Linked DNA regions of Homo sapiens: regions 1, 2, 4, 5 and 6 are each reported to be linked to region 3. The links are microRNA targets in miRTarBase. Many come from high-throughput screens and were not tested one by one. Region 3 holds a microRNA gene; each other region holds the end of a gene's coding sequence. Distances are from middle to middle.

Region 1 (4,087 bases), not on the chromosome of region 3:
GGGGGCTGGACCCAGGGATTACTGGCATATTCTCCCTTCAGTGAAGTACAACAAGGGCCTGACCTGCTCCAGCATCACTATCCTGAGCCCTAAAGAGTGTGAGGTCTTCTACCCTGGCGTGGTCACCAACAACATGATATGTGCTGGACTGGACCGGGGCCAGGACCCTTGCCAGGTAGGGTCTGAACAGGGAGAGTCTCTGACTCCTGGGAGGGAGGACAGGGAGGTTATGGGAAAAGAGCAGACCCTGTGCCCGATCCCCAACTCCATTCCCAAACCCATCCTTGACCCCAACTCTTACCCAGACCTAACCCCCTCCTCATCCCTATCCTCAATCCCATTTCCATCCCAACCCCACCCCATTCCCATCTCCAAGCCCATTTTCATCCCCTCACCTTCCATGAACTACAATCCCAACCCCAGTCTCACTGTGCCTTCATTCTCATCCCCCAGCCCAACCTCCCATAACCTGAAGTCCACCTCCATTCCTACCTTCCAGCTCATACCTAATTCCAACCCCATCCCATCCTCGTCTTTATCCCAACCCAACTCCTTCCTTCCCCACCACTGCCCCAGATCCCAAAGTGACAGCTCTCACGTTGGCACATTTATTTGATCTCTCCTTCCTGCCACCCCCAGAGTGACTCTGGAGGCCCCCTGGTCTGTGACGAGACCCTCCAAGGCATCCTCTCGTGGGGTGTTTACCCCTGTGGCTCTGCCCAGCATCCAGCTGTCTACACCCAGATCTGCAAATACATGTCCTGGATCAATAAAGTCATACGCTCCAACTGATCCAGATGCTACGCTCCAGCTGATCCAGATGTTATGCTCCTGCTGATCCAGATGCCCAGAGGCTCCATCGTCCATCCTCTTCCTCCCCAGTCGGCTGAACTCTCCCCTTGTCTGCACTGTTCAAACCTCTGCCGCCCTCCACACCTCTAAACATCTCCCCTCTCACCTCATTCCCCCACCTATCCCCATTCTCTGCCTGTACTGAAGCTGAAATGCAGGAAGTGGTGGCAAAGGTTTATTCCAGAGAAGCCAGGAAGCCGGTCATCACCCAGCCTCTGAGAGCAGTTACTGGGGTCACCCAACCTGACTTCCTCTGCCACTCCCTGCTGTGTGACTTTGGGCAAGCCAAGTGCCCTCTCTGAACCTCAGTTTCCTCATCTGCAAAATGGGAACAATGACGTGCCTACCTCTTAGACATGTTGTGAGGAGACTATGATATAACATGTGTATGTAAATCTTCATGGTGATTGTCATGTAAGGCTTAACACAGTGGGTGGTGAGTTCTGACTAAAGGTTACCTGTTGTCGTGATCTGACCACGTCCCGGTGAAAGCGTGTGTCCAGGGAAGAAGTGCACAGGGTAGCCCCCAGTCCCAACCTTCCATCCCCAACCCTTAGGGATGATGGAAGAATCATTTTCCTCACCCTAGTTCCAAGTCCCAGGAAACACCTTTTAACCACTTCCTTCTCATCTCCCACTGTTTCCCACTTCTGGTTCCACCCAACACCAGTTCCTCCGAGCTAGGCTGGCCCTGAGTCATTAGCACCTTCTCTGCCTTCATGAGGCCACTGAACTCAAGGGACCTCACCTTGCTTCTATCCCAGCCTCTAAGACCAGAGGGCCGAGGGGGTAGTGAAGATTGGGAAACCCTTGCCACCTCAACTGCCCAGCTTGTGCCAAGAAACCTCCCTCTGACATTTAGGGGAAAATCTTTGGTTTGTCTGTTATTAATTGGCTGTGAGATTTTCGTCCTGAAAACTTGGGAGGAGGAATTGTTTGATTCTCCCTGAAATTGGGGGAGGGAAGGGGAGTTAATACACAGAATCCAGGTAAGGCTAATAGAAGCTTCAGTGTCCGCTGGGTGTGGTGGCTCACGCCTGTAATCCTAGCACTTTGGGAGGCCGAGGAAAGCAGATCATCTGAGGTCAGGTGTTCGAGACCAGTCTGGCCAAAATGGTGAAATCCCATCTCTACTGAAAATACAAAAACTAGCCAGGCATGGTGGCAGGCACCTATAATCCCATCTACTTGGGAGGCTGAGGCAGAAGAATCACTTGAACCCGGGGGGCAGAGGTTGCAGTGAGCCAAGATTGCACCATTGCACTCCATCCAGCCTGGACAAAAGAGCAAAACTCCATCTCAAAAAAAGAAGAAGTTTGAGTGTCTCAGCTTATCCTGAACTTTGAAGCAGTAACATAAGCTAGCTGAATATAGGCACAACAGAAATTTCCCATTAAGCACGGGGTTTTTGTTTGTTTGTTTGTCCTTTCAGTTACCAATTTATGGAGCATCTATTATGTGCCAGGCCCAGTGCTGGGTGCTGGGGACATACGTAGGGGTGATCACAAGGTCCCCCACCCTGCAGAGCCCACAGGAGGTTGATGTACAAGGTCTGAGCACACAGCTCCCTTCCGTGGCCTCTTTCCCATTCTGCCCCCATTAGCACACGCAGGAAATGTCAGACAGGCGTATCAGCTGGGTTTGTCATCCAAAGACCAGAAGCGAGGTCGGTGGAAACTTGAAAACTCGATTCATTATTAAAGGCAACTCACCCGTCCCTTTAGTCACTCCACAATGTTTATCGAGCCACGTCTTATGCCAGGCCTCAAAGATGAATCAGACCAGGCACTACCCTCAAGGAGCTGCTAGTTAGGTCAGGGAGACAGGCCAGTCTTACATTCCTGTCATTCAGGTCTCCACTCAAAAGTCACCTCCTCCGGGAGGCCTTCCTGAATTGCCCAGGCTATAGGAGTCCACTTTTGGTCATCCAGTCCCGATGCTCTGTTTTTTGTTTGTTTGTTTTTTTTTTTAATAGCACCTATTATACCTGAAATTATCTCATTTGTGTTTACTTGATAATGGTCTATGTCACCCTTCCCCACAAATTCCGTGAGGGCAGTGATTCAGATATTTGTTCACTGTGATTTTCTAAGCTCCTGTATTGTGCCCGGCACACAGAAGTCACCCCCGTTGCTGTGTGAACACATAACACAAATAGATCAGTGCTGTAACAGAAGGGGGTATGGGGTGCACCACACCAAGTCCACAGGCTGTGCCTGAAGGAGTCAGGAAAGGCTTCTCAATGAGGGGACATTTGTGCAGGAGTTTAAAGGATAAGTAGGAGTTCACCAGGTAGAGAAGGAAATGCATTTCAATCACTTTGCTGTATGACTTTGAGCAAATTACTTGAATGCTGTCTCTTCCTCAGTTTTCACTCTGTGAAATGGAGACACCTGCTTAATTAGACTCCCGTGAGAGTTAAATGAGATAGGCTGGGCGCAGTGGCTCACTCCTATAATCCCAGAACTTTAGGAGGCTGAGATGGGTGGAATGCTTGAGCTCAGGAGTTTAAGATCAGCCTGAGCAACATAGTGAAACCTCGTCTCTACTAAAAAAAAAAAAAAAAAAAAAAAAAAAATTAGCCTTGCATGGTGGTGCACACCTTGTAGTCCTAGCTACTCAGGAGGCTGAGGCAGGAGGAATACTTGAGTCCAGGAGGTTGAGGCTGCAATGAACTATGATCATGCCGCTGCACTCCAGCCTTGGCAACAGAGACCCTGTGTCAAAAAACAAAAAACAACAACAACAAAAGGATAATTAAATGAGATAATATACATGCAAAGTTCACCTAACACCAGGCACTGAGAACACAGTCAATAAAGGTAGCTATTAAAATGCTCATTTTTTTTTTATTTTTCTTTTGAGAGTCTTGCTCTGTTGCCCAGGCTGGAGTGCAGTGGCACGATCTAGGCTCACTGCAACCTCTGCCTCCCGGGTTCAAGCAATTCTCCTGCCTCAGCCTCCCGAGTAGCTGGGATTACAGGCCGCCCGCCACCATGCCTGGCTAATTTTTGTGTTTTTAATAGAGTCAGAGTTTCACCATGTTGGCCAGGCTGGTCTTGAACTCCTGACCTCAAGTGATCCACCCACCTCGGTCCCCCAAAGTGCTGAGATTACAGGCGTGAGCCACCGCGCTTGGTCTAAAATGCTCTTAATAGCAGTTAAGGTGGCACTTAGCACATAGTGGATACCCAGTCCCTGATCTCAAGGACTTCCCTGTCTGGAAAGGGAGTGA
Region 2 (4,083 bases), not on the chromosome of region 3:
CTCACGGGGAGCTCTGTGGGTGTCCAGGAGCTGACTGTGTCCCCTCCCCCAGGTACATCCCCACAGCCGCGGCCTTTGGTGGGCTGTGCATCGGGGCCCTCTCGGTCCTGGCTGACTTCCTAGGCGCCATTGGGTCTGGAACCGGGATCCTGCTCGCAGTCACAATCATCTACCAGTACTTTGAGATCTTCGTTAAGGAGCAAAGCGAGGTTGGCAGCATGGGGGCCCTGCTCTTCTGAGCCCGTCTCCCGGACAGGTTGAGGAAGCTGCTCCAGAAGCGCCTCGGAAGGGGAGCTCTCATCATGGCGCGTGCTGCTGCGGCATATGGACTTTTAATAATGTTTTTGAATTTCGTATTCTTTCATTCCACTGTGTAAAGTGCTAGACATTTTCCAATTTAAAATTTTGCTTTTTATCCTGGCACTGGCAAAAAGAACTGTGAAAGTGAAATTTTATTCAGCCGACTGCCAGAGAAGTGGGAATGGTATAGGATTGTCCCCAAGTGTCCATGTAACTTTTGTTTTAACCTTTGCACCTTCTCAGTGCTGTATGCGGCTGCAGCCGTCTCACCTGTTTCCCCACAAAGGGAATTTCTCACTCTGGTTGGAAGCACAAACACTGAAATGTCTACGTTTCATTTTGGCAGTAGGGTGTGAAGCTGGGAGCAGATCATGTATTTCCCGGAGACGTGGGACCTTGCTGGCATGTCTCCTTCACAATCAGGCGTGGGAATATCTGGCTTAGGACTGTTTCTCTCTAAGACACCATTGTTTTCCCTTATTTTAAAAGTGATTTTTTTAAGGACAGAACTTCTTCCAAAAGAGAGGGATGGCTTTCCCAGAAGACACTCCTGGCCATCTGTGGATTTGTCTGTGCACCTATTGGCTCTTCTAGCTGACTCTTCTGGTTGGGCTTAGAGTCTGCCTGTTTCTGCTAGCTCCGTGTTTAGTCCACTTGGGTCATCAGCTCTGCCAAGCTGAGCCTGGCCAAGCTAGGTGGACAGACCCTTGCAGTGATGTCCGTTTGTCCAGATTCTGCCAGTCATCACTGGACACGTCTCCTCGCAGCTGCCCTAGCAAGGGGAGACATTGTGGTAGCTATCAGACATGGACAGAAACTGACTTAGTGCTCACAAGCCCCTACACCTTCTGGGCTGAAGATCACCCAGCTGTGTTCAGAATTTTCTTACTGTGCTTAGGACTGCACGCAAGTGAGCAGACACCACCGACTTCCTTTCTGCGTCACCAGTGTCGTCAGCAGAGAGAGGACAGCACAGGCTCAAGGTTGGTAGTGAAGTCAGGTTCGGGGTGCATGGGCTGTGGTGGTGTTGATCAGTTGCTCCAGTGTTTGAAATAAGAAGACTCATGTTTATGTCTGGAATAAGTTCTGTTTGTGCTGACAGGTGGCCTAGGTCCTGGAGATGAGCACCCTCTCTCTGGCCTTTAGGGAGTCCCCTCTTAGGACAGGCACTGCCCAGCAGCAAGGGCAGCAGAGTTGGGTGCTAAGATCCTGAGGAGCTCGAGGTTTCGAGCTGGCTTTAGACATTGGTGGGACCAAGGATGTTTTGCAGGATGCCCTGATCCTAAGAAGGGGGCCTGGGGGTGCGTGCAGCCTGTCGGGGAGACCCCACTCTGACAGTGGGCACACGGCAGCCTGCAAAGCACAGGGCCACCGCCACAGCCCGGCAGAGGGGCACACTCTGGAGACCTTGCTGGCAGTGCTAGCCAGGAAACAGAGTGACCAAGGGACAAGAAGGGACTTGCCTAAAGCCACCCAGCAACTCAGCAGCAGAACCAAGATGGGCCCCAGGCTCCTCCATATGGCCCAGGGCTTACCACCCTATCACACGTGGCCTTGTCTAGACCCAGTCCTGAGCAGGGGAGAGGCTCTTGAGACCTGATGCCCTCCTACCCACATGGTTCTCCCACTGCCCTGTCTGCTCTGCTGCTACAGAGGGGCAGGGCCTCCCCCAGCCCACGCTTAGGAATGCTTGGCCTCTGGCAGGCAGGCAGCTGTACCCAAGCTGGTGGGCAGGGGGCTGGAAGGCACCAGGCCTCAGGAGGAGCCCCATAGTCCCGCCTGCAGCCTGTAACCATCGGCTGGGCCCTGCAAGGCCCACACTCACGCCCTGTGGGTGATGGTCACGGTGGGTGGGTGGGGGCTGACCCCAGCTTCCAGGGGACTGTCACTGTGGACGCCAAAATGGCATAACTGAGATAAGGTGAATAAGTGACAAATAAAGCCAGTTTTTTACAAGGTACTTGATCATGTTCTCTTGATTTTAAATTAGATTTTATTCCCAAAAAGGCCAGTGAGGCGCAAAGCTTGGTTGCAGCTTTGTGTGTGTCAAAGGCTTGGTTGGGGCACTCAGGCATTTTGCCTGGAAAAGTTCCCTTCTGATGGTCATGTCAACCTGGTGCTCACATTTGTGATAAAGTGATATGGGTGCTGGGCCACATGTGGAGCTGCTGCAGGGCTCTGCCCGTGAGGCAGAGTGCACTGGCTGTCCCGTGAGAATGCAGAGGCCTCCGCTGAGCCAGGGCGCCTGCCACCCCGTGGAAGAGTGGGAACCTTCTAGCAGGAGCCTAGGGCCCCATAACTCGAAGCCCTTTGAGCCTCAGCTCCAGTACCCAGCTGGTGATTGGAGAAGTCTTAACTTGGTTGTGAGGCTGGCCTCAGACCCGACCTGTAGCCAAGCCAGAAGGACCCAGTGTTGTGTGGGTGGGAGTGGCAGGCTTGTGGCTGCTCCCTTAGAACGTGTCTAGAAGTCTTTCTGTTTCTACACCAAGCCCCCAGTGGTAGGCCACATTTCCACTCTCCCCAGTCCTGGACAGGGCCTCACCCCAAACCTGCCGCCGTCCCCACCACCTGGGCCTGGTGCTTCCTCAGGAACTTGAGGGGCAGGTGGGTGGGCAACCCCAGGGCAGGCCTGACCAGGGCTGTGGGAGGTCGTTACTCCTTAGCTGGGCTCCAGCCTCAGTATTTCCTTGTAGTCTTAGACCTTGTCTTGGAAACTGATTTCCAAGGGGAGTTGGGTCAGAGCAGGATGGTTCCTCTGAGACCACCTGATGGACAGGTGTGGGCCTGGCCTTGCAGAAGCCACACCTCAGCACTGTGTTTTGAGACTGCTAGGACACATGTGCAGCCAGGTCTGCCCCGCGCTCCCTCTGCACCTGCTGGCCTCAGGGCTCAGGGAGGCCCTGGACAGGAGCACAGCACGTGGCCTCAGGCTCCAGACCAGCCAGGCGCTGTGAATTGCTGAGGCAGGCAGGGTGCTTGCCAGTATAAATATGTTAGAAAACCTGCTGCCCCAGGGAAGCAGTAGGCCATCTCTCGTGCCTCAGGTATTCGTTTGCACCTGTGGCCGTGGCCCCTCTTGCCTGAGAGCAAACGGAGCCCACATTCCAGCAGCCACGCACGCTTCAAGATGGCAGGCCCTGGTGTCTCTCCACCTGGCTCCTCCCCATGCACAGGGAACTAATGCACAGTGATGGGGGGGTAAGGCTTACTCTGCTTTTTCCCTTGGGGCAGGCACTGTCCCAGCCACTTCCTACATGTGCTCTCACTTCACCCCACTAGAGGCCCAGGAGGAAACAAGTCCGTCCATTTTACAGGTGAAGAAACTGAGGCCCAGGGAAATAGAGTGTGGCCAAAAGTCACTTAGCTCCCGAGCCAGGACAAAAAGCCTAAGGCTCACTTCCTACTCCAAGTCCCTGTCTGGCTGCTGGTCCTGCCTGCAGGTACTTCTGCTAGGGACGTAGCTGGGGCAAGGAATGAGGAGTCTAGGGAAACAGGCCCCACCCCCGGAGCTTCCCCTTGCTGCCCTTGGCTCAGGGGCAGCACCCGCTTCAACTGGCACTCCGCTCCATCCATGGTGCTGCTTTACCACTGCCTCCCTGGACCTGCTGATGCCCTACCCCATACCCCGCCCCCAGCCTGCTCCTGCTGAAGCCAGGCCAGCATGAAGTCCTCAGGAAGGCTGGGATGAGCCTCCCATCTCATTTCTGAGGGGTCTGAGCCCCATGGCCTGGGGAAGAGCAACGGATTCCTGATGAGGGCCAGGGGATGGGCATGTGGCACTGT
Region 3 (4,087 bases):
ACAAGGTCTCACCATGTTGCCCAGGCTGGTCTTGAACACGTGGGCTCAAGCAATCCTCCTGCCTCGGCCTCCCAAAGTGCTGGAATTACAGACATGAGCCACCACATGCCCCTGCCTTTTTTTTTTTTTTTTAATTAAAGAAGAGGTCTTGCTGTGCTGCCCAGGCTGAAGTGCAGTGGCATGATCCTACCTCACTGTAACCTCAAACTCCTGGGTTCCTCCCACATTGGCCTCCCAAAGTGTTGGGATTACAGGCATGAGCCACTGCGCTGAGCCAAGGTACTTCTTTTAATGTGTTCCTTTAACACCCTGTACACATTCCCACGTGGTGGTACAACCTTTAAGTATTTGTATCCCCAACTAAATTGTGAATTCCTTGAAAATAAGGACTGTTTTATTCATGCTTGTATCCCCAATACATAGCACAGAACTTTACCCTCAGAGGATGCTCAGTGTTTGATGAATAAATAATGATTGACAGAGAATTTGGATTCAGAGCTCATAGTACAGAGTTCTCTGCAGCCTCACATGACCCCCAACAAACATGAATGCTACTGCTCTTAACACTACTACTGGGGAGAGAAAGAGTCCTCTGATTACTATCGTAAAAAGAGAAGGTCACTTAACACAAATATGGGACAGAGAAATGACGGGGAGAAGGAGTATGCAACTTGGCAATGATACCTAATCTCTCCCTTTAAGGGCACAAATTCCACTTCTCACACAGACACACAGACAGCAGGCATGGAGTTCACTTTAGCACCTCTACTCTTCATAAGGCATTTCAGACATTTTTTTTTCCCTTCTAAAATTTCTGAGCTAATAGGGATCCTGGAGAACATACTGTCTAGTACACTTTCCTCATTTGACCTTTGAGAAAAACAGGGTCCAGAGAGATTAGGGTAACATCTCACCCCAGTAGCTGAATCTGGGGAAAAGTTCCAGTTTCCAGACTTTAAATCCAGTGCTCTATAATGATCTGGCTGCCTCTCTGCCCTCATCAAGCTCTGCCCATCCAAAAACCTAAGGGGCACTGTCTTGCTGGATGGGCATCCTCAGCAGCTCACAGACCTGGCCCTGCTGAGGCTGTGCGATGATGATCTGCCCAGGCTGGATGGTGGTCGTGGAGCTGGTGGTCTGCTGGCCTTGCTGCTGGCCCTGGACTTGGACAGCGGTGGGTTGCTGAGCCAGCGTGAAATAGTACTGGACTGGCTCGGCAGGAGTTACAGACTGGCGCACCTCCTCCTGTTGGGTGGAAAGAGAGGCAGGTAAGAGGAAAAGAACCAACTCAGCAGCCGCCACAGTGAATTTCCACTCTTCCCCCAAACAGGCTATGTGCAGTTGCCTGCTGAATGCTGAGCTCTCCACATTTGAAGCCAAAGGAAAGTGGAATTCAAAGAGACCAGTTATGCTAAATCAAACTAAAAATAACAGATCCTATAGGCTTCACAAAACATACAGCCAATTTCTGAAGTACGAAATAATCACCCATTGCATGATAAGTTGCAAACGGGCAAATAAGTACCGTAACTAAAAACCACACACCAGCAGTGCTTGTCAGTAAATGCTGTCAAGGCCTGTGATCTGAGAACAGTGCTAATTGCAAGTGTTGGGAAGATGCTACCCAAACATCATGCCTCTCAGGCCTGGTCCCAATCTCCCAAATAGGCAGCACTCTTCTCGTTTTAGCCCCACCACTTCAAGGGGGACAGAACAGGTTAATGGGAAACAGGGCTTTTCCTGAGCTGAAATTTCAGGATCGAGAGCACTGGTAGGCAAGTACCCAGCTTTTCACAGCTTGTTGAAAGCTCTGTGGTCACTGAGGGCATGTCTATCCAGTGTCACATCTGGTTCTGGTTGTACTTAGCCACAGAAGCGCAACCCAGGGGGCCTGATGGACAGCTCTCCGCTGGGGTACTGCCTTGGCTGATTAGGGAGGTCGCATTCTGTCCGATCTGCGGAGTGGAGACTGTTCCTTCTTCAGCTGATGTTTTCCATGGCAGAAGGAGTAAACAACCCTCTCCCAGCCACCTTGAGCTCACAGCTGAGAGTGTAGGATGTTTACACACACTACAGCATGGTTATAGCCCACAGGGTCCAGGGTTGATCAGCCCCTGACCACTGACACAGAACGGCGTCTGATCCGGAGTGACCTGTGTGACACATGGTGCCCCTGCCTGGGACAACAAAAACAATAAAAACACAGAACCACTTGGGCTGGCTGAGTAAAAATATTAGCTAAATTTACTCATGTCCTTATTCAGGGCAAAGTTTGCCACGTTCCAGAAAAGAGGAAAAGACACTTCTTAGATGTACACAGACCCTGTGGATTGCCTCCAACTCCCCAAAGTAACATTTACAAAGCTGGTATTGACCCCATCCCCACACTATGTTAGGTGCCCTCAACTGTGCTTCCAAAGTACTGTCCTCACAGTATACATTTTTGCACTTGCATGTCAAATTAACTGTCTGTTCTACTAAAATGTTAAGCACCATGAGGGCAAAGCCTAGCTCTCTCTTGCTCTCTGCTATCCCCCGCGTTCCCAGGTAGGCACTCAGTAAGTGCGTGATGAATGATGAATGGATTTAGACAGGCAGACAGTTAGAGGCAGGAAAGTAGTTCTCTGAATCCAACTTGCTGATATGACAAATTCTCTTAAACCCAACAGCTGTTACCAATAGAAAAAAGTAGTCTCTAAACTCTCTTTTGGTACCTCTAAGACTCTGTGGCCACAGTGTGAGGAAGCAGCTAGTGTCCCCTGTGGAACAGAGCTGAGTATCCTTTGTTTGCCTGATGTCTGGGGGCTAGGATACTAAAACTAGGACTGCCAGTATCTACCCCTGAGAAACATGGGTCTCTGCATGACATGGTTACTTGACAGCCATCTACCCAGCTTAGGGAGATACCTGTAACATTCTGGGTTTCTAAGTTAATATATGAACTGACTTTTTAGGTTGATATAGTCTGTGCTTCAGACACAAATAGTTTTAACCCTCAATATGATTATGCTAAGGCAGAAGGAAAAGGAGATTCCCTTTTATTTTCATCTAGGTCTCAATTTCCACAACAATTTCAACCCCAACTTATCATCATTATAAATAAATGTCAGCCTGGAAACTAGGTATTGGCTGTGGCAAAGCTAAAATACTGATACCTTTTGCAGCCAAGAAACAGAAGCCAACTGCTCTTTGCAAAGCTATTGAAGTAGGTTCAAGGTACTTGTGTTCCACTGAGATCTCCCTTATTATTTTACAAAAAGCACAAATCACTGAAATCCAGACCTAACTTGGAAAAGCTCTTGGGTAATGAGAGGGTATACAGGAATGAGAGCCTCAGAACCAGCTGTGTAGGAAGCTAGGCAGCAGGGAGACACCTGCATTTTCTAGCCGTGACCTGTGATTGTTTAGTCTCCAGTTATCCCCAACTACAGCTGATCTAGTATTGAATATGATCTTTTTGTCAGACAAAAAGCAAACCCTTTAAAAACCCCTTCCAGAACCCAAAATATCTCTTGCCAAAAGCTGTGAGAGCAGGACAAGAGCTCCTCCTATGCTGCTTACTACATCCTCTTAAACTGTTTATGAACTAGACAGTATCTAGGACACTGAGAATCAAGTGGAGGCACCTAGGTTTGTGTTGTTAGGACAAGGCACAACTGTTCTCAAATCACTGGAATGGAAGAAGGCATATCTAAGGCTCTTCTGCATTATGAAGACTCATTCTGCCAATGGAGGTCAAGCCAGCAAGGAAATGATTATGCTTGGTTTAAAGAAATGGGTGAAAAGATAATGACATTTCAATGGGCAGGAACTTTCAACTCAATAGCTTTAGTGGGGCAGAAGTCAGGCCTCAACTACCTCCTACCTTCAAATAATCTTTACTTGCTTCTCTGAAGAACAAGCGAAACTCTCAAGTATCTTTGAGAAGTCAGGGCCTTGGACTCACAATTCAGTATTTCTGACTAGTTCCTTTTCCCAGCAGTGGGAGGTTGCCCCAAGTGGCAGAACAATGCTTTAATGACTGGATCAATCCAGAATGGGGCACTTGCTCAACTTTAGCAGTGGCCTCCCCAACTACAGGGCTTGC
Region 4 (4,087 bases), 160 Mb from region 3:
ACACACACACACACACACGCAGACATCAGGTCCCACATTAGCCTCCAATGACCTAGTATTTTATTTTTAGTGCCTAGGCAAGGTCTGAGAAACAAATACATTGGACAAAACTTGTTGGTCTTCTTCATCCAGAAATTAAGGGACTCAGCTCAGGAACCTCTCCTGGAGTTGTGGCTCTCCCCATTGGTTGACATTAGATATTGAATTCATGTCATTTCCTAGACAACTGTGGTGAGGGATGGAGTTGGGGGGCTGGAGAGGAAGATAATAGCACAAATTCCAGTATTAGGCTGGATTCTTCTGAAGGTGCCTGGCGGTTGAGAATTTAGCTATGGGACCCAGTGTTTCTTTTCTGAAGGATCCCAGTAGTCTCAACCAAGAAGCAGGACGTAGGTGGGAGAGAATGCTGTAGATTTGCTCCTTGCCATAAATTCTAGGGCAGTGAGTGGGGAGCTCAGGTTTTCTGCTTCAGAGAAGTCTGGATGAGTGTCCCAAGGGGTTATAGCACCATGAGGAGGCTCAGCCTTCTGCAGTTGCCATATAACTGTGATTCCTTCATGAGAATGATCAATCCCCACAGTGAGGGGCCCAGATGTGCAACTGTAAACAGGGTCCCAGGCTCCAGAGGGAAAGCCGAGGCTTCAATACTACCTCACTAGACGGGAACACACTTTCTGGAGGAAAGCAATTGGAGACCTGGCCTAAATGCAGCAGTCAGCTGAGAGTAGAGGGTGGTGGATCCCAGGAAGAGAAATAAAAAGTCATAGCATGAGGCCTCCAGAATCAACCTGCTGAGGATCCAAATAAAATTCATGGTGGTATCCATGGTTACCAGAGAGCCAAGAATCCCTTTGGGGTCGGAGGCAGTTGGAATGAAAGAAGGGGTTCTCCCCTCTCCTTTTTCTCAAGTAGCCAGTAACATCCATGGCAGAAGGCACTGGCTGGGCAGCACCAGAAAATAGAGTGAAGCGCTCAACCATCAGATTAAGATGGCATTAAAAGTCTGAGCCTTGCCATGGAACTGGAGCTTAGGATAGGGTTTAGAAGAGGCCTAGATCCCAAGCAGGCCCATCCAGTCTTCTCTTCCTTCTAAGTTAGAACAGCCAGCTCGGGGGCCTCCTCATTCTGCACAGCAGAGACCTTAAGGCAGTGATTTCAGCACCATCCTTGGACACACAGCCTCTTCCCACCACAGAATTGCATATGTTACAGCTGAGTTGGTTAGGGATCTTCACAGCTCATGGAATTAGCAGCAATAGCAATAATAGTCTCCATCATACAGAACCCTGTCATCCATGGGAGCTTACCACGTGGATGCAGAAGCTTTTGTGAGGGGCAGCCCGGACCATCTTTTGGACTTAATATACCGATATGAAGATTCAGATGCATCTACTCCTCGGTTGGGTGGAAGAGTGATCCAGGTTGGTATGCCTATAGATTCTGATAAAGTCTTGTGCTACTTAGGAATCTGAAGAGCAAACACTTAGGCCGGTGCTCATCACATATCCTTGACCTGCAGAGTCCTGAAGCTTCAGCCTACTAGGCAGCTCAGCCTAGAAGCTGGTCCCGCGGGGCTTTCAGAAATGGCAGGAAGTAGACTTGCCCATTCCTGACAAGCAAGATTCCATAGTCCTTCAGGCTCCATCTTAATTGATCCCAGATCTTCTGCCCCCAATGTATTGTACATCTAATCAAAAGCTTCTTTCTAGCTGGCTCCTTGGGTTTCAGCTACATTTCTTAGATGATCCCGAAGGTCTAGATAACAAGGGGGCGTAGCTGAATGGAGGTTAACATTTCCTGCTGGACTGTAAACTTAAGGGCCCAGGTCTTGTGTGTGTGTGTGTGTGTGTGTGTGTGTGTGTGTGTGTGTGTGTGTCTGTTTTAACCTAATGATTTGTATATAGTGAGTACTCAGTAAGTACTTGTCAAATGAAAGAACAGGGATTGCCAGACCTTCAAGGCAATGGGAAAGGAGCAAATCTGCAAAGGTAGGATCTCTTTGGAAGGCAGGTATTGGCCACCAAGTCAAACTCCTTGAGTCTTATATTCTGATTGGGATGATCTCACATGGATGTTCATCTCTTATATGTGAATACTCATTTGTGAAAAATAGTAAGAGCCAGCTAGGATATTTGGATTCAGTCAGGCACCATCAGAATAGTGCAGTGAAAGGCCAAACTGGCCACAAGACAGAGGAATGTTTTCAGTTTTCTGGTTTTCCTCTGGTCCATGATAAAGCTCGGAGTAACTCTTCTATCAAGATGGGGCTATACCTTCTCATGACAGAGGCTGGCAATTGAGCTACCCAGCAGAACGTGTGCTCTCAAAAGGGAAGTCAAGGGAACTGGGTTCCTCTTCTCCCTCTACTTCTGAGCCAATGCTTCATGTCTCATATAAGCCCCATGGATGCCAAAGATAGTGGCATGGCAGGTGTCATGCCAATTGCATGGCATCAGATTCTCCAAAGAAAACCCACTTGGAAAAGCCAAACTAGCCCCTGGAAAAGCAACCCAAGCATCTCGTGGACATGTGAGGAAATGGAAAAACGGAAAAAGAAAAAAAAAAGGGAAACAAAAAAATAAATAGGCAAATGGGAGAAAAAAATGAAAACAAAATAAAAACCAAAAATAAAAAAGTAGGGTTTATTGACTCTTATGCATTGTTAAATTAGAGGGTAGAAAGACAGAGCTGGTAGTCTTTCCCTGAAGGCTGTAAGGTTATTTTTGTGGTTTGGTGACTTCTCAGGTTGGCAGCCGTCTTGTTGATGTCCCCTATGTCATCCAGAGGGCAGGAGCGGGCAGCTCTCTACCTTGGCAACTGGTTCCTCTCTCTCCAGCTTCATCTTTTCCATTGTTTTTTGTTTGTTTGCTTGTTTTTGTTTTTCATTTTTACCTTTTACAGATTGATTTAAACATTTTTTAAACCACATGCTTCTTTTTCTGGGCTCCAGCCAGATCTCTGGGGGAGGAGTTGTTGGCAGTGGTGATGGAATTGGGAAGGGTCTGTGAGAAAATCTGAGGAGCTTCCTGCCTCCCCCAGATCTCCCTCACAAGACTGTCTCTCTCAGGGTTGCTTGTGAGAATCATTTAGGAACTGCTGCAGTGTTTTGATGTTTTCTGAACCCCTCCCCAGAAAGCCCAGGAGTTTGTAATTGAAACAAGAAGTCAAGGGAAAGACCCAGAATCATCTTTTCCCCAAAGTCATTAGAGGAGGCCAGTAAATGTGTTTAGGGGGCACAAGTTCCCAAACGCCACCCCACCATTCCTTCCTAGGAAGTTCTCAAAGGTACAGCACCAAGAACCTGTCCCTCCTCTTTCATCTCCTCCTCCCTCCTGTTCTCCTCCTGGGGCTGGAGAGCCAGTGCTCTGAAAGAGGAGAGGGGAGAGGAGGAGCTAAGATAGCTGATGCCAGCGTTCTGCTGTCCGGGGGTGACAGTGATTGCCGAACCCTTAAAGTGTTGCCTGAAGGTTGGGGTCCAGGATGGTTTCTCGATCTGGAGACTCAATGTAGTTGGCAGCTTCTTGAAGTTTCAGCAGCATGGCCATCTAAAGGGGGGCAAAAAGATGGATTTATGAGAGTTGGGACTCTGGGTCCTGCCCACAGAAGGGAAACAACAACAACAAAATCCCAACACTTTGGGAGGCCAAGGTGGAAGGATAGCTTGAAGCCAGGAGTTTGCAATCAGCTTTGAAAACAAAGAGAGACCCTGACTCTACCAAAAAATAAAAATAAAACAATAAAAAACTGGCCAGGCGTGGTGGCACACAACTACAGTCCCAGCTACTCAGGATGCCAAAGCCCAAGTGGGAGGATGACTCGAGCCTATGAGCCTAGGAGTTTGAGGCAGCAGTGAGCTTTGATATCATCACTGCATTCCAGCCTGGATGAAAGAGCAAGACTCTGTCTCCAAAAAAAAAAAAAAAAAAATCTAGATCATGGGTCTGATCCTTGGTTTCTCAGTGATGAAGAGCTCAGAGTTTAGAGTGGTTTGTGAAAAGGCAATGAGGATTTCTTCAATGATAACTGTGACACATGTGTATGTACAACAATTACTTGGGAGTATGCCTGCTATACAAGGGACAAGGTA
Region 5 (4,087 bases), not on the chromosome of region 3:
GCCCAGAGCCCTCATTGCAGTATGCGGCCACCCAGCTGTACCCTCCGCCCCCGTGGTCCCCCAGCTCCCCGCCTCACTCCACGGGCTCGGTGAGGCCGGTCAGGGCACAGGGCGAGGGCCTCTTGCCCTGAGCACCCTGGATGGTGACTGCGGATAGGGGCAGCCAGACCAGCTCCCACAGGAGTTCAACTGGGTCTGAGACTTCAAGGGGTGGTGGTGGGAGCCCCCCTTGGGAGAGGACCCCTGGGAAGGGTGTTTTTCCTTTGAGGGGGATTCTGTGCCACAGCAGGGCTCAGCTTCCTGCCTTCCATAGCTGTCATGGCCTCACCTGGAGCGGAGGGGACCTGGGGACCTGAAGGTGGATGGGGACACAGCTCCTGGCTTCTCCTGGTGCTGCCCTCACTGTCCCCCCGCCTAAAGGGGGTACTGAGCCTCCTGTGGCCCGCAGCAGTGAGGGCACAGCTGTGGGTTGCAGGGGAGACAGCCAGCACGGCGTGGCCATTCTATGACCCCCCAGCCTGGCAGACTGGGGAGCTGGGGGCAGAGGGCGGTGCCAAGTGCCACATCTTGCCATAGTGGATGCTCTTCCAGTTTCTTTTTTCTATTAAACACCCCACTTCCTTTGGTTTGCTTTGCTTTGCATCTTCAGGGGTGAACCTGGCGGGGATGGGAGGTGGCCAAGTGCAGGAAGTGGAGGGGGGCAGGGCTGAGGATGCGGATTTGGAGTGGATGGAGCCTGCCCAAGGGATGTGGAATGAGAGGGATGCCAGGGATGGAGTTCCGGCCCAGCCCAGCCCAGCCCAGCCCAGCCCAGCCCAGCCCAGCCCAGCCCAGGGGCCTCTGCAAGCCTGGGTTGGGGGAGGCGGTGTTGGGCTGATACCTTGGCTTTGACCCTTGCCATCCTCCCTCCCTCCCTCCCTCTCTCCCTCCCTCCCTCTCTCCCTCCCTCCCTCCATCTGGCTGCCCCCAGGCAGCCCCTAGCAGGGACACATATGGGACATTTCAGAGACCCAGGTCTGGCCCTGGCACCTACATTGAGATCTGAGATCCTCTGGGAACCCCCAGCCTGTCCCCCTGCAGCTGGGATCTGGGGTGGGAAAGGTGAGGTGTGGGGATGGGGTAGGAAGCAGCCAGGCAGAGGCAGGGGTGTTAATTACAGTACACCTTTATTAATACTGGAATCTTCACAGTGCATCTGTTACTTGTAGCAGTGACTATATTTAAATCGGGGAGGATGGTGTGGAGGGGGCGGGGAGGAGAGGAGAATTTTTCCAAAATCTGACGGAAAGAAAAGAAACAAATGGTTCAGATGGGACGGAGGGTGGGGGAGGGGGGGAGGGTGAGTAGGAACCAGGAGGGCTGCCTGGGGTGGGGGAATAAATTAAAAAAAGGAACGAGTTAACAACAGCACCAGGAAAGTTACTTCAGTCAAAAGACGCTTTTGAAAAGAATATTTCTCCGTACAAAATGAGAAATTAAACGAACGTAAAGTCCCCCAAACCAAAGTTTGTGATGTGGGATGGTTGGCTCGGATCCCGAGGTGGGTGGGCCTATGAGGTGGTTGCTAAGTCGACGCAAGGGCGGCGGGGGTGGTCTCAGGGATGGACAAGGGGATGGAGTAGAGTATGTACAGCCCCCGGGGCTCACAGGGGAGGGGGACGGCGGAGTCGGTGGGGGCTGTGCCACACGAGCCCCCCTCTCTGGGTAGCCCCTGCCTCCTTTCCCATCAGGACCTCTGACGCCCAGGTCTGCCCACCCACTGCCCCTCACTCTATTCCCACCACATCCTGAATCCTGCTCCACCGCCCTGCCTCGGAAGACCCCTGCAGCCCTGGGGAGAATGTGTGGCGGAAATTCTACCCAAGACTCCCCAAATAATTGGTCACCTGCTCTCCTGGCCCCTAAAACCGGGGCTCTGGTGTTGGCCTGAGCTCCACGGGCTGAGTGCTCGGCCAGGCAGTTGTTGAACCTAGTGACTTACTTACAGGGACCATTCTTCATCAGCTCCCTCTGATGGGACTCTGTCCACATCAGGGCCTGCTTGGTGCCCGGACCTACCCAGGAGCTGCCCAGCTCACCGCACAAGAACTCCCAGGAGCTCAAGCCTGGGAGGCTCAGACCCAGCTCCATTCTATCAATCAATCAATCAATCATCAAGACCAAGGTGCTCCTGACCCCCAGGTAGGACCCTGCCCTGGGGCCACGATGCCCTCTGAGCCCTGCTTTCCCTCCTGACCTGCGGGGCCACCAGGACTCCCTCCGCTCGCCCTAGGCTCACGTGCTTTTACCTGCTGAGACTTGGCGTGACTTGGTGCGTGGGGTGGGGGCAGCCTTGCCCCTCCCCTTGCCCCCGCTGCCACCACGAGCCTGGACTACAGTGGGGGCCGTGCTGGGATGGCATCTCCTCCGGCAACAGAGAGTCAAAGCCAATCTTCCCAGACTCGCTCCCCCACCTGGGCTTGCAGCCAGCTCAGACCACAGCAGACAGGCCGGGAGCCTCCCAACCTTATTTTGGCTACGCTCGAGACACTGGAGAGAACAGTAGCTTCCACCGGGCTCTGGGGGAGCCAAGTCCCTCCCTTCTCATCCTGCCATAGGACCACCGGGGGGTCCCTGTCCCCCAGGCACTCCCAGACACACACCCTGTATCGTCCCCTCTCCCCCACACTTAGTCCTCGTCCACAGTCAGCTCCATTTTATTATATTCATAAAATGACCCCACACCTCCTACTGCTCCAGTCACCCCCCGAAAGGTGGCTAAAACTGTGACCCCCAAAGTTAAAAGATTGATGTACCCAATGAGAAGTGGACATCTGAAAACGGTGCCTGTGTGGCTGGCCGGTGACCCCAGGGCCTCCGGCCTCCTAACCCTGCTGCCCTAGTTTCCAAAGAGCTGCTCTGGCCCCCTCCAGCCAGCCTCACGGGGTGGGGGAGGCGAGGGGTGGGAGCCACCACAGGGCCCCCAAGACCCCCCCCCCCAAGCAGCCCCTGGTTTCCTCCCTGAGACTTGGCGTGGGCCCTGGAACTCCCTTCCCACACGGGGGGCCTGGCCGCCCAACTCCAACCTGCCGCCCTGGCCCCCAGCCCCCAGCAGACATCCAGCCCAGCGTGCACCTGGCCCCTCCACAGCCGCCCCGCCTCCTGGAGGGAGAGGGGCCTGGGAGAGGCAGAGAGAAGGCAAGAGGGGAGGAGGGGGCTCAGGCAGGGGAGAGGGGGGCCAGCATTCCAGGAGGAGCTGAGGCAGGACCAGCCCTGGGAGAGGCCGGGATGGTGAAAGGGAGGCCAGCCTGGCCCCTCTGTCATGGGCAGCGGCCCTGGCTCTGGTGCTTATGGGTAGGGAAGAGGCAGGGCCCCAGAGGAGGAAGAGGAGGGACCGAAGAGCATAAAACAGACCCCGAACCAGGCCCAGGCCTGCAGGCTCCGTCCTGGCCAGGCTTGCTAAGAAGTCACTTCCTGTTTAAATGCTGGAATCCAAGTGAGGTGTCTTTCCATAAAGTGGCATGGCCTCTGCCCTGGCTCTGTCCTCTCTCCTGGCTGGGCCTTTGCTCTGAGTGCCTGCGGCTCACAGACCAGGCCACCTGCTCGCACTGGGGCCTGAGAGGATGGGGAGGGTGGCGCCATCATAAGATGCGGGGCGCCGACCTGTCGTTGGTGACGGTCCTGCGGAGCCGGACCCCACGCCGGATGGCCACCAGCATGTCTTCGGCCGGGGGGTCGCTGGTGGCGGCTGGGGGTGGGGTGGGCGTCTCCTCCGTGGGGGTGGCCGACAGAGCAGTGGGGAAGGGGAACTGGCCCTCACCCAGTGCGTGGGCACCCGCCACCAGCTCCCCCAGCTTCTCCACCAGGCTGTGCCGGTTGGCCGCCAGCTGCTGCTGCTCGTCCTCGGCCCCTGCCCCGGGGTACCCGGCTGCCTCTGGGGATGGGCTGCCCCAGGCTGTGTTGGGCAGGCTGAGCCTCTTTGGGGAGGCCTTGGCGAGGTCCGGTGCCAGGGGTGAGGCGGTCTCGTCGGTATAGAAGACGCACTCCTCACTGCCCGCCCGTGTGGGCCCCATGTAGCCGGGGGAGTCAGGCACCGTGGGCGTCTTCA
Region 6 (4,087 bases), not on the chromosome of region 3:
GTGGAGGTTGCAGTGAGCTGAGATCATGCCATTGTACTCCAGCCCGGGCAACAGAGCAAGACTCCATCTTAAAGAAATAAAAATAAAAAAAATAAAAAAAATTTAAAAAGGTCATATTAAGCTGCCAAAAGTGTTTAGTGTAACTAAAATGATGAAACTGATTTTCCTGCATAATAACAAACTGCTTTTCATGGTATGCTCTAGAACAGTTCCAAAAACATTATACTTTTGCAGTATAGCTGGAATAAACAGTGCTCCCAAAAGAACCACTCTGAAGATGAACTCTTATTTGGATGTTAAGGCATGACTTATTCACCTTAAAAAGAAAGTTCTACAACTCAATATTTGTATCTCACATATTCTACCATTTCAGTGGTTATCAAAACCTGTCTCAGAGAGGGGTAAACAAAAGTATAAATGAAATGTTGTTTTGCTATTTTCCCATAAGCAAGGAAAATGCTAATATATAAAATGGAGTCTGGTGGTTATATATGTAATATATAAATATCCACATCATCTCTATTTCCTGATAAGAGACTGTAGTGTTTTATCCATCCTGATAAGACAGGCAGTAACTCAGTCTGAGATATATTATACATAAAACGTATCTTCTCCTACCTAATACATTTTATGGTGACCATTTAGAATTTACAAATGACTAACAGAGGGAAGGTAGAAAGAGACTGCAATTAAAAGTCTTCCAATTTAAGGTAAATTAACCTCCAAAACCTCTACCAGCAACTAACATGCTTGTTAATTTAGTGCAGTCTAATGCCATGGTTTTTAAGAGAAAGGGAATAATCAAGTCAGCAAATGAAAGCCAGTAGCACCATCTACTGCTAATTAAAATATTTTCACTCTTTTTGTTATTAATTTCTCTCTACCACCACTACTCCATCAATTAAAGTAATTCCAAAACATTGCTTCGTATCAACATTTAACCAAAAAAAGCATTGTGTGTGACAATAATACTATGTTAACTTACTACTTTATATTTTATGGGATGCTTTTATCAAAGGATAAGAAAACCAACTGTTGCTTTATAGCTACGTATTAATATAGAGAGCAAGGGGGAAAATAATTATCTTGGTTACTTACAAATTAATTAAAGAAATCCAAAAAGAATCCAACAGACATTTATCAGCAAACTCTGCTGCAGAACAAAGCACTGATCCTTATATTTAAAAGGGCATCTTACTAACTTTCATGGGAACCAACCAAATCAACCTTTTATTACATCAGTTCTTTCACTTTCTGATTTTTTCCTTACTTGTAGCCATGTAACACCATGTGCAATGCCAGGCCTCTCCCCTAGAGAACTGCTATGCTTTGTTACCATATATACACATATATACATCTCCTTACTTCCCAGTGACTGTGATTAAAGAAATACTCTAAGCAGGCACCTGAGATTCTGGCACAGTGAAAACAAACTATCTACATATAGTGGGAAAGTAGGTCTTACTACTAAAAACAAGTACAGTGTACTACTGTATAAGGCTTGAAAGGGCAAGATTAATTTTTCACTATTCTCTCTATACTTGGCTATTGCAACTCCTTTTTTACTAGATTGATATGAAGTCAAATACAATATGGAAGACTGAGTAATTCTGTGCTTCATTTTCCTATATGGACAAGATTCAAAATCACCTCACAAATTTTATTTCTGAATCAACCCATAATGATTCATATTATCTATCTGAATACAAAAAGATTTAAGGAAATTAACTAGCTCTGACTGCAGTTTATAAATAAGCTTTACCAATAAATGTCCAAGATATTTAACTCTGCCAGGCTTTCCTGTTACTTCTACTGTTGGTACTTGGTAAATAATTGCTAGAAATGAAGTGGAGAAAAAGGCAGTTTCTAGTCAACATAATTGTAATGGCATTAAATTGTATCACTGCTCTACTTTAATGGCAAAACAAATTCATTTAATTTTAGATTCTTTTCTACTGAGTGTTTTTAATCTATACTATTTCAGAGCAAGCATTTCTTCCTAGATGTGAAAAAGGTATATGTTTCAACTGAAGGAAGGATATATATTTCTAACTGAAGAAAGATTTATCGAAAATGACAAAACTAAAACTGGATTTCTAAAAAGGGTATTTTCTAGAATAAAACTGAAGTGGAAAAATTAATATTTATTCTAAAAACTAAGTTTCTGAAATTGTTATTTATGGTAATAATTCACTAGAAAGTCATGGCGAATAAAATTTAGAAGTTAATAACTACTGAATTAGCATTTTTCATTATCTAATACTGCTGCAAAGAAAAACATTTCCTTTCAGGGTGGAAAAACCAGAAGTCAGAATGCTTCAAACTGGACCTATAATAACCAAAGAAGGTATGGTATCATCTTAAAATGACAGGCAAACATCAGCTCCATTCACTGAATGGAAATGCTAAGAAGTGATCAATTTCCCCCAACAGTCCTTAAATTCCATGTTTAATGTCTGTACCTAAAATTAATAATTTATTTTTAACTTCTCATGGAAGTTGATTCCTAAAAGGAAGTCTCTAAGACTTTGTTTATAAGTAATTGATTAAAATCTTCATGCCATTCTATTCAAAGGTTTTCAGACAAAACTTTCTAGAACTTGACTCCCCATCCCTAACTCCTCATACATACGAACATCTCCATGCCCCCAGCCAAATATACATTCCTATCCCCTTCTCTTCAAAGTAGAAGGGAATTCTGCAGACTTACGGCTCATTTGGCAATTACTAGGAAACCTCACAGTTCAGCATCACCTCTGAAGATGGCAATCCTATATATAACCTGAATTTTTACATCTACAGTGCAGTTAACATGTAGAAAGAAGCCAAAATGTAATACATTTCAACATCCTCAAGTTTCAGTATCACAGATATCAAGAGGTGGGAAAAGACCTGCTTGTAGAGCTTTAAGCATTGTTGAACGTAATATATTACCATCAATATAAAAAATAATTAAGAAATATTTTTTATGTTCTACATGCATACCTTTACAAATTCTGTTTCTTCAAAGCAGTAAAGGCTGGAAATCACCATTTTAGGTAAACTATGGCTTTTATCATAGATATGTTACAACATGCACCAGTAAGTGCCCTGGGTAGTAATCCTAATATTGTTTCAAGCCCTGTTCAGTTCTATATCTATGTTTTGCACCTCAGAAGTGAGCCTGCCAAGGCACTTAAAAACATAACTCTTTTGGGGACTTCATAAATGGGCCACAATTTATACCACACAGAAACCAATCCATCGGCAGTTCAATCAACAAGCACTTTCTTGCAGCACACAATATTATTAAAAAACTCCTCAAGTAACCAAAACCAAGTTTAAAAACACTAAGATAAATTTACCCTTATCAAGTGTATAGAGAATGGTTCTTGGCTTCCCCTAGCAATAGAATATGGTTTCACATAATCAGAATAAAGAAAAAGGAACCCAAACAAGCCCCCGCCCCCAAACCTAGGACAAAAACAATCCAGATAAAAACAAAATATAACAAAATCCCCAATACACTCCACACTGCTTCATTTGAGGAACAATTTGCACAGCTCTGCATCCTTTTATCTGTCTTTTGAGGTGAGTTTTTCAATCAGTTCTTGGAGTGGTGCAAGTTCTCTTCTATCAATAAGGTTGAATTCCTATGCATGATATAAAGAAAGGCAGAATAAATAGCAAAAACATTATTTGCATCTTATTCCAAAGTAAATTACCATGAACATTTGTTGGAAATTAGCTTTTGAAGTACATAAAAGTAGATTATTTTTTTCTTGTTCACTAGGTCTGTGTCTTGGGTAAATCACTTAAGCACTCCTGATGTTATGCTTTTACATCTGTGACATTAGGATAAATCCCCCTATCTCATAAAATTATTGTGGGGACTAAATGTGATACTGGATGTTAACTACTTCATGTAATGCCTGACACAAAGTAACAATAAATGGAAGTTGCTGCTTCCTGTTGAAAGGAATGATCTGGACACCATTTAAATACAGTTAACCAAGTAGACATAGACACACACACAAAACACTAGCATCTCAGGCAAATTCAGCATTATATGAAAAGCCAAAACCTGGTTACAAACTAACGTATCTGC

Evidence for each region. Region 3 holds the annotated microRNA hsa-miR-30c-1-3p (CUGGGAGAGGGUUGUUUACUCC, at 2,006-2,027, opposite strand). A microRNA usually pairs through its seed, bases 2 to 8, with sites in the 3' UTR of a target mRNA and lowers its output. Matches are read on the target gene's strand: a 7mer-m8 pairs with bases 2 to 8, a 7mer-A1 pairs with bases 2 to 7 and ends in A, and an 8mer does both.
Region 1: miRTarBase lists KLK10 as a target of hsa-miR-30c-1-3p. Seed matches in the 3' UTR shown: 7mer-m8 at 1,483-1,489.
Region 2: miRTarBase lists SEC61A1 as a target of hsa-miR-30c-1-3p. Seed matches in the 3' UTR shown: 7mer-m8 at 1,921-1,927.
Region 4: the mRNA of NAV1 is a reported target of hsa-miR-30c-1-3p. Seed matches in the 3' UTR shown: 7mer-m8 at 2,592-2,598 and 7mer-m8 at 395-401.
Region 5: miRTarBase lists MTSS2 as a target of hsa-miR-30c-1-3p. Seed matches in the 3' UTR shown: 7mer-m8 at 3,254-3,260 and 7mer-m8 at 3,159-3,165.
Region 6: miRTarBase lists MOB1B as a target of hsa-miR-30c-1-3p. The part of its 3' UTR that is shown has no 7-base or 8-base seed match.

Annotation. Positions count from the first base shown.
Region 1 is chr19:51,011,505-51,015,591 of GRCh38, reverse strand. It overlaps KLK10 (kallikrein related peptidase 10), which reads left to right. Exons shown (of 6, transcript NM_145888.3): 5 at 42-175; 6 at 640-2,853. The coding sequence ends at 792. Among named protein-coding and RNA genes, the nearest start is that of KLK9, 4.0 kb to the right of the region's middle.
Region 2 is chr3:128,069,424-128,073,506 of GRCh38, forward strand. SEC61A1 (SEC61 translocon subunit alpha 1) reads left to right here. Exons shown (of 12, transcript NM_013336.4): 12 at 53-2,260. The coding sequence ends at 239. It also overlaps a transcript of RUVBL1 not described here. Among named protein-coding and RNA genes, the nearest start is that of RUVBL1-AS1, 4.3 kb to the right of the region's middle.
Region 3 is chr1:40,755,279-40,759,365 of GRCh38, reverse strand. MIR30C1 (microRNA 30c-1) reads right to left here and starts at 2,082; the gene lies at 1,994-2,082. It overlaps NFYC (nuclear transcription factor Y subunit gamma), which reads right to left. Exons shown (of 10, transcript NM_014223.5): 6 at 1,072-1,245.
Region 4 is chr1:201,819,295-201,823,381 of GRCh38, reverse strand. It overlaps NAV1 (neuron navigator 1), which reads right to left. Exons shown (of 34, transcript NM_001389617.1): 34 at 1-3,545. The coding sequence ends at 3,450. All of the region lies in intron 1 of IPO9-AS1 (IPO9 antisense RNA 1), which reads left to right. Among named protein-coding and RNA genes, the nearest start is that of IPO9, 7.8 kb to the left of the region's middle.
Region 5 is chr16:70,660,057-70,664,143 of GRCh38, forward strand. It overlaps MTSS2 (MTSS I-BAR domain containing 2), which reads right to left. Exons shown (of 15, transcript NM_138383.3): 15 at 1,148-4,087. The coding sequence ends at 3,621. IL34 (interleukin 34) reads left to right here. Exons shown (of 6, transcript NM_001393494.1): 6 at 1-626. The coding sequence ends at 131. Among named protein-coding and RNA genes, the nearest start is that of IL34, 16 kb to the left of the region's middle.
Region 6 is chr4:70,981,525-70,985,611 of GRCh38, reverse strand. It overlaps MOB1B (MOB kinase activator 1B), which reads right to left. Exons shown (of 6, transcript NM_173468.4): 6 at 1-3,632. The coding sequence ends at 3,555. Among named protein-coding and RNA genes, the nearest start is that of DCK, 10 kb to the left of the region's middle.